2 linked regions of the Homo sapiens genome follow. The protein of the gene in region 1 purifies or fractionates together with the protein of each later gene. This does not show direct contact. Each region holds a gene or a part of one and is shown on either strand. Other genes may lie near its edges. The genes, in order: WDR73 and CCM2.

Evidence for each region.
Region 2: the proteins of WDR73 (region 1) and CCM2 purify together in Homo sapiens (co-immunoprecipitation; one large-scale study listed by IntAct). This does not show direct contact.

The regions. Positions count from the first base shown.
Region 1 is NC_000015.10:84,647,621-84,651,434, reverse strand, and holds part of WDR73 (integrator complex assembly factor WDR73), read left to right. Parts: intron 1-2,809; coding exon 2,810-2,898; intron 2,899-3,480; coding exon 3,481-3,545; intron 3,546-3,814. UniProt on the Homo sapiens protein: Component of a multiprotein complex required for the assembly of the RNA endonuclease module of the integrator complex. Associates with INTS9 and INTS11 in the cytoplasm, stabilizing the INTS9-INTS11 heterodimer and blocking the active site of INTS11.
Region 2 is NC_000007.14:45,003,172-45,006,985, forward strand, and holds part of CCM2 (cerebral cavernous malformations 2 protein), read left to right. Parts: intron 1-3,814. UniProt on the Homo sapiens protein: Component of the CCM signaling pathway which is a crucial regulator of heart and vessel formation and integrity. May act through the stabilization of endothelial cell junctions. May function as a scaffold protein for MAP2K3-MAP3K3 signaling.

The sequences.
Region 1 (3,814 bases):
TTTGTTTTGAGACAAGGGCTTGCTCTGTCACCCAGGCTGGAGTGCAGTGGCGCGATCCCTGGCTCACTACAGTCTAAACCTCCCAGGCTCAAGTGATCCTCCCGCCTCAGCCTCCCAAGTAGCTGGGACTACAGGCATGTGCCACCATGCTTGGCTAATTGTTAAATTTTTTTGTAGAGATGAGGTTTCACTGTGTTGGCCAGGCTGGTCTCGAACGCTTGGCTTCAAGTGATCCGCCTGCTTCGGCCTCCCAAAGTGCTGGGATTACTGGCATGAGCCATCACTCCTGGCCCCAAACTTCTTAAAAAAATTTTTTTTTTTTTTTGAGGTCTCACTCTGTCACCTAGGCTGGAGTGCAGTGGCGCGATCTCAGCTCACTGCAACCTCTGCCTCCTGGGCTCAAGCCATCCTCCCACTTCAGCATCCCGAGTAGTTGGGACCACAGGCATGTGCCACCACACCTGGTTAATTTTTGTATTTTTTGGTAGGGACGGGGTCTTGCCAAGCTGTTCTCAAACTCCTGAGCTCAAGCAATCCTCCTGCCTCCCAAAGTGCTGGGATTCCAGGTGTGAACCACCGCACTTGGCCTTTTTTATTTTGTTTTGTTTTAAATTATTTAATGAAATAGGAAACAATCCGAGTGCGGTGACTCATGCCTGTAATCCCAGCACCTTGGGAGCGGGAGACCAACGTGGGCAGATCACTAGAGGCCAGAAGTTCAAGACCAGCCTGGCCAACATGGTGAAACCCCATCTCTACTAAAAATAAAACAAATTTGGCCAGGCGCGTGGCTCACACCTGTAATCCCAGCACTTTGGGAGGCTGAGGTGGGCGGATCACAAGGTCAGGAGTTCGAGACCAGTCTGGCCAATATGGTGAAACCCCATCTCTACTAATAATACAAAAATTAGCCGGGTGTGGTGGCATGCGCCTGTAGTACCAGCTACTCAGGAGGCTGAGGCAGAAGAATTGCTTGAACCTGGGAGGTGGAGCTTGCAGTGAGCCAACATCAAGCCACTGCATCCAGCCTGGGTGACAGAGTGAGACTCCGTCTCAAAAAAAAGAAAAAGAAAAAGAAAATTAGCCGGGTGTGGTGGTATATGCCTTTAATCCCAGCTACTCAGGGGAGGCTGAGGCACCAGAGAATCCCTTAAACCCAGGAGGCAGAGGTTGCAGTGACCTGAGATGGCACCACTGCACTTCCAGCCTAGGTAACAGCATGACACTCCGTCTCACAAAAATAAGTAAATAAATTTATCTTAGGGCCTCACCATGTTATGGAGTTGAGTCTAATTGTTTAGAAGAGAAGAGGCTAAGAGGCTAGACAAGGACATAGAAAAACATTGTTCAGCCTGGGAGAGGCTAGATCCCATGCAGATGTGGCCCAGTTTTTATCAAAGTAGCCTGAGGACCACCCTACCAGGGCCATTAGGAGTGCTGGCTAAAATGCATATTCCTAGCATACTTCCCAAACATACTGAATTATAATCTCAAGAGGGAAAGCTTAGGAAAAATGCCAAGTTTGTAGACTGACATGGTGACTCACACCTGTAATCCCAGCACTTTTTGAAGCTGAGGCGGTGGACTGCTTGAGCCTAGGAGTTCAAGTCCAGCCTGGACAACATGGCAAGCCCATCTCTTCACAAAATTTAAAAAGTTAAAAAAGACCAGGTGTGGTGGCTTATGTCTGTAATCCCAGCACTTTGGGAGGCTGAGGCAGGCGGATCACCTGAGGTTGGGAGTTCGAGACCAGCCTGGGCAACATGGCAAAACCCTGTCTCTACTAAAAATACAAAAATTAACTGGGTGTGGTGGTGCACACCTGTAGTCCCAGCTACTCAGGAGGCTGAGGCAGGAGAATAGCTTAAACTGGGGAGACAGAGGTTGCAGTGAGCCAAGATCACGCCACTGCCCTCCAGCCTGGGCTACAGAGTGAGACTCTGTCTCAAAAAAAAGTTAAAAAAAAAAAAAAAGCCAAATTTGTACTCATAAAACCCAGAGGCTACAGAAGCTATAGGGTAGCACCTAGTGTTCTTCATCTTCCCCATCTCCAGTCAGGCTTGAGTCAGGGGTTCACCCAGACTGAGCCTAGCTGTGAGAACTGATTTAACCTCCCCGCTCACCACCAGCTTTGCCTTGTTTCTTCTATGGCCACCTCCTTTTCCCTTGCCTCTGGTTCCTTACATGGAGATAGTAGAGCCTAGTGGCTAACAGTGTGGACTTGGGTTAGACAGACTTTGGTTCAAATTCACAACTTAATACTTGTATGACCTTATATAAGTGGCTGAAGCTCCTTGTGCCTTAGTTGTGTCATTTGTAGAATAGGGATAATTATAGTACCTATATCATAGGAGGTTGTAAGAATTAAATGTGATAAAGCCCTAAACACTGCGCCTGACACAGTGAATACTGATAAGTTGTAATTGTTAATTTTTATCGTTAGAGGAACCCACCTGACTTCCAGCGGGAGAATGGAGGGAGAAATGGGGATGTGTTCATTGCTCTCTTTGATGAAGCTGTTAAGCTTCTCTGGCTTCTCTAGGAAGGCCTGGAGTATAATGCTTGTGCTGTAGTAAAAGGGGCTAGTGAAAGGCTAGGAGAAGGGTTTTGGATGTGCAAAGGAAAAAGGAAGCTGTACGTGTAGGCAGCTGAGACCAACATTGCCAAATACCAGGACACCAACGCCCTTTCACCAGCTGAGTGGCTTCCATGGCCTCCTGCCAGGCTAGGACCTGACTCCTCACTTAGAGTTCCTCTGAAATGTTCATTTGAAGAGCTGGCTCTGATTGGCTACTCCTTTGTATTTTAGGGCTTATTCCCAGAAAGAGATTTCAAAGTGCGCCATGGAGGATTTTCAGACAGGTCTATCTTTGATCTAAAGCATGTGCCACATACCAGGTATGGTCAATTTTGTGATCCAGCCATCCACACAGGATGGGATGGGATGGCTGCAAATGCCTGGGGGTATTCTGCCTCCTCATCTCCATTCCCACCCCCTCAGCACACAGGCACATGTGAGTGCACAAGTGTGTGCACACAGATACACACAGATTTAGAATACAAAGAAACCACTGCTGTGGCTTCATAGCCCCCCAGAGCCCTTGGACTAATGTAAGTAACAGTTCTACCGGAGTTGCTCCAGGGAATAGATACGGGACAGAAAGATGCTCTTCTATTGCTCTTGGGTGATAATTGCTCAGTTGGGAGAGGCCAAGAGTCTCTGGGTCAGGTTGTGTTTGGCCCCATACTTGTGTCCTCTGTAGGTGACCATCATGACACATGGAAGCTTGGGCTCAGTCTCCCTAAAGTTGATTGAGCCTGCTCCTTATCTGTGAAATGAGGGTGGTTGGCCTTGATGATCTTGCAGTAAGATGTCCTGATATGGGAAGTGGAGTCCCAAGCTAAGTGTGCTGGAAAGGGGAAGGGACCTGTGTGGATAAGCTCCCCATGGTCTGGACTGATTTTGTCTTTTCTGAATAGATTGCTGGTTACCAGTGGCCTTCCAGGTTGTTATCTGCAGGTGTGGCAGGTTGCAGAGGACAGTGGTGAGTGAATTTGACTTGATGGGGTTTGGGGTTCTAGGAAAGTGTGACTCATACACCCCTGTCCCCTAATCTGAGCCAGTTAAGAAGGAGACTCAGGCTGGGGACAGTCTCATGCCTGTAATTGTAGCACTTTGGGAGGCTGAGCTGGGTGGATCACTTGAATTCAGGAGTTGAAGACCACCTTGTACAACATGGTGAAACCTGTCTCTATTAAAAATACAAAAAATTAGCCGGGCATGGTGGTAGGCACCTGTAATCCCTGCTACTGG
Region 2 (3,814 bases), on another chromosome or scaffold:
TTCAGGTGATTCTCTTGCCTCAGCCTCCCGAGTAGCTGGGATTACAGGCGTGTGCCATCATGCCCAGCTAATTTTTGTATTTTTAGTAGAGACGGGGTTTCTCCATGTTGGTCAGGCTAGTCTCAAACTCCGGATCTCAGGTGATCCACCCACCTTGGCCTCCCAAGGTGCTGGGTGGCTGAGCCACCGCACCTGACAGTAATTCCTTTTTATTAGAAACTTGGATGCACTTAAGTTGGGTTGTGTGGATTTTTATACTCAGATCACAGCCCAAAAAAGCTGTCTTGTCAGGGTTGGGTGTAGGTAATCCTAACACTTTGGGAGGCCGAAGCAGGCGGATCACTTGACACCAGGAGTTTGAGACCAGCCTGGCCAGCATGGTGAAACCCCGTCTCTACTAAAAATACAAAATTAGCTGGGCGTGGTGGCATGTGCCTATAATCCCAGTTAGGAGGCTGAGGCAGGAGAATCTCTTGAACCCGGGAGGTGGAGGTTGCAGTGAGCTGAGATCATGCCACTGTACTCCAGCCTGGGCAACAGGGCAAGACTCCATCTCCAAAAAAAAAAAAAAACCATCTTGTGGCCTTAACCTTGTGGGTCTCAGCTTCTCTGCTGCCTCTGGTCTTCGGTTGCCCCACCAGGTGGCTATGATTTCACACTGATCAAAGTTAAATATTTTTACATTCATCTAGTTTATTTGCATTGTTTAAGGTAGAAAAAGGTTATAGGTTGAGTGTAGTGGCTACGCCTGTAATCCCAGCACTTTGGGAGACTGAGGTGGGAGGATCACTTGAGCCTAGGAGTTTGAGATCAGCCTGGACAATGTAGTGAGACCCTATCTCTACAAAAAATAAGAAAATTAGCTGAGCATGGTGGTGCATGCCTGTAGTTCCAGCTACTTGGGATGCTGAGAAGGGAAGATCGCTTGAGCCCTGGAGGTCGAGGCTGCAGTGAGTGTGATTGTGCCACCACCTGAGTGACAGCAAGACCCTGTCTCAAGAAGAAAAAGAGAAAAAAAAGGTTATAAAGTTCCCTAGAAATGTAGGACTAGATATTAAATAATAAATAAGGAATTATTAATTTTGTTGGGTATGATAATTAAGTTCTGATCTGATAGGCATGTATTCTGAGATATTTGTAGGTGAAATAATATGATTTCTGGGATTTGCTTTACTCAAAATAGAAGAAACAAAGGGGATAGCTGAATGCTTTGGTAATGGTTATATATTGTTCTGTCTACTTTTATGTATTTTTGAGAATTTCCATAATAAAAAGTGGAGGGGAAAAGATCCTCTAGGTTACAGGCCCTGAACTATCAGCTGCTGTAGTCACTGCTGGACCAGTGTCTGTGAGGAACTGAAAGCTTGGATTGGACCAGTACCTTTTAAAATTTGGTCACTGCAGGCACCAGGAAGCCATACCTTCTCCATGCTGACCTGATGCAGACATAAATGTGTGTGTCTGTATAACCGAAGTGAAAGTTTAAAGGAACCACACTTAAACGCTCTGATTTTTTAATTCTATTTTTTTTTCTTTCTATTACAACTGGTGGTTGGCCAGGTGCGGTGGCTCACACTGGTAATCCCAGCACTTTGGGAGGCTGAGGTGGGTGGATCACCTGTCAGGAGTCTGAGACCAGCCATGGTGAAACCCCATCTCTACTAAAAATACAAAAATTAGCTGAGCGTGGTGGTGGGGCCTGTAATCCTAGCTACTTGTGAGGCTGAGGCAGGAGAATTGCTTGAACTCGGGAGATGGAGGTTGCAGTGAGCTGAGAATGTGCCATTGCGCTCCAGCCTGGGCGACAAGAGTAAGACTCCGTCTCAAAAAAAAAAAAAAGGCTCATGGTCATGACCCACTAAACCGATTCTATAACTGTCACAAGCCATACTTGGGTTCAGAAGGTGAATTGGGGCTGCTATATTTTGTTTTATTTTTCCTCTTGGGTAGCTATTGCAGTGATTCTTGGATGGCAACTTGGTAACTCAGGGTCAGGAGGCTGGAGAACCAGGCAGGAGGTGCTCAGCAGAGAACCTAAGGCAGCCAGTAGGTGAGGCCAGAATGATCGGCAACATAAGGCTGGTTACTTTTCTGTCTTGAAGAGTTACCATTTACATAGTATGTATTTGTTAATTTTCAACATATTGTCAGATTCTGTCATAATTTAGATTCAGAAAGCACATCAGAACCTTCCAGGGCTGCTCTGAGCATCCTTTCAGAGGAAGATAGTGTAAAGCAAAACGTTTCTCTTAGCAATATTATTGCAGTGAAGGGCTTCCCTGCAGACGAGAAGGGCGTCTGCAGTCTGCCCCACTGGGGCGCTTACTCTTGATCTTCCAGTTTTTTCATTTCCGTCAGCAGTGCCCCCTCCTTGTTGTCACTTTGCAGTGTAAGTAAATGGTCATGATTAAGTCCTATAAACCTAACTATTGAGCATTTAAATCACCCTCTATTGTTGGTTTACGTGGTGGCGATACAAGTTTTTAGTGAGATAACTTGGTCATGCCTTGCCTATTATGTGCTTAGCCCACTGAGAAGAGGGTTAGGGACATTGCACTTTGGAAAGTAGGTCACTTACACCTAAAATTAGAGACTAAAGGCAGACCTAGGATGTCAGAAGAGACATGGGGCAGGCAGCAGCCACTTCCAGCCAGGTTGAGACCGGGACTGTGTCCTGCAGTTCAGAAGCAGAGATGAGGTGGAGAGGACCCCCCAGTCCTGGGAAGTCCTTGGGCTGGGAAGTTGGGTGTTGGTTCTGTATGCACTTGAAGCCACTGGAGGTGTTCCACATCATGCATTCACTTGTCCATTAAACTATTGTTTATTAGCACCAATGGTGTCAGACACAGATGCTGGAGACTGAAATGTGTACGGTGAGCCTGTGGCTGCAGAGCAGGAAGTGGAGCCCGGGGATGGATGGTGGGAGCAGGCTTTGGTAAGAGTGATCAGGAACACCTTTATGAAAACTTCAAAAGCAAATGTAAAGAAAAAAAATCATGTAACGAAGTCCCCTGTGCCCATGTGTGGGCAGTCAGTTTCATGTGCACCTTCTCCTCATTCCTGCTTCCTGCCTGTGTGGGCCGAATAGTGTCCCCTCAGAGTCATGTGCTGAAGCCCCTACTTCCAGGACCTCAGGATGTGACTGTATTTGAAGATGGAGTCTTTTTTTTTTTATTTGTTTTTATTTTAGACGGAGTCTTGTTGCTCTGTCACCCAGGCTGGAGTGCAGTGGTGCAATCTTGGCTCGCTGCAAGCTCCGCCTCCCAGGTTCCCGCCATTCTCCTGCCTCGGCCTCCTGAGTAGCTAGGACTACAGGTGCCCGCCACCACACCTGGCTAATTTTTTTGTATTTTTGGTAGAGATGGGGTTTCACCGTATTAGCCAGGATGGTCTCAATCTCCTGACTCCGTGATCCACCCACCTCGGCCTCCCAAAGTGCTGGGATTATAGGCTTGAGCCACCATGCCTGGCCTGAAGATGGAGTCTTTAAGGAGGTGATTGAGGTAAAATGAGGTAATTGTGTGGGCCCTAATCCAATCTGATGGATGTCCTTATAGGAAGTTATTAGGACACAGAGAGGAATGATCATTGGAGGACTCATGGAGAAGGCAGCCATCTGCAAGCCAAGGAGAGACCTCAGGAGAAACCACCCTGCTAAATTTACCTTGATCTTGGACTTTCAGCATCTAGACTCTAAGAGAATAAGTTTCTATTATTGAAGCCACTCAAGTCTATAATACTTAGTCCTGGCAGCCCAAGAAGGCTAATGCACCAGGTGATTTTGAAGCAAACCCTAGAGTTCAGTTTGTAGATA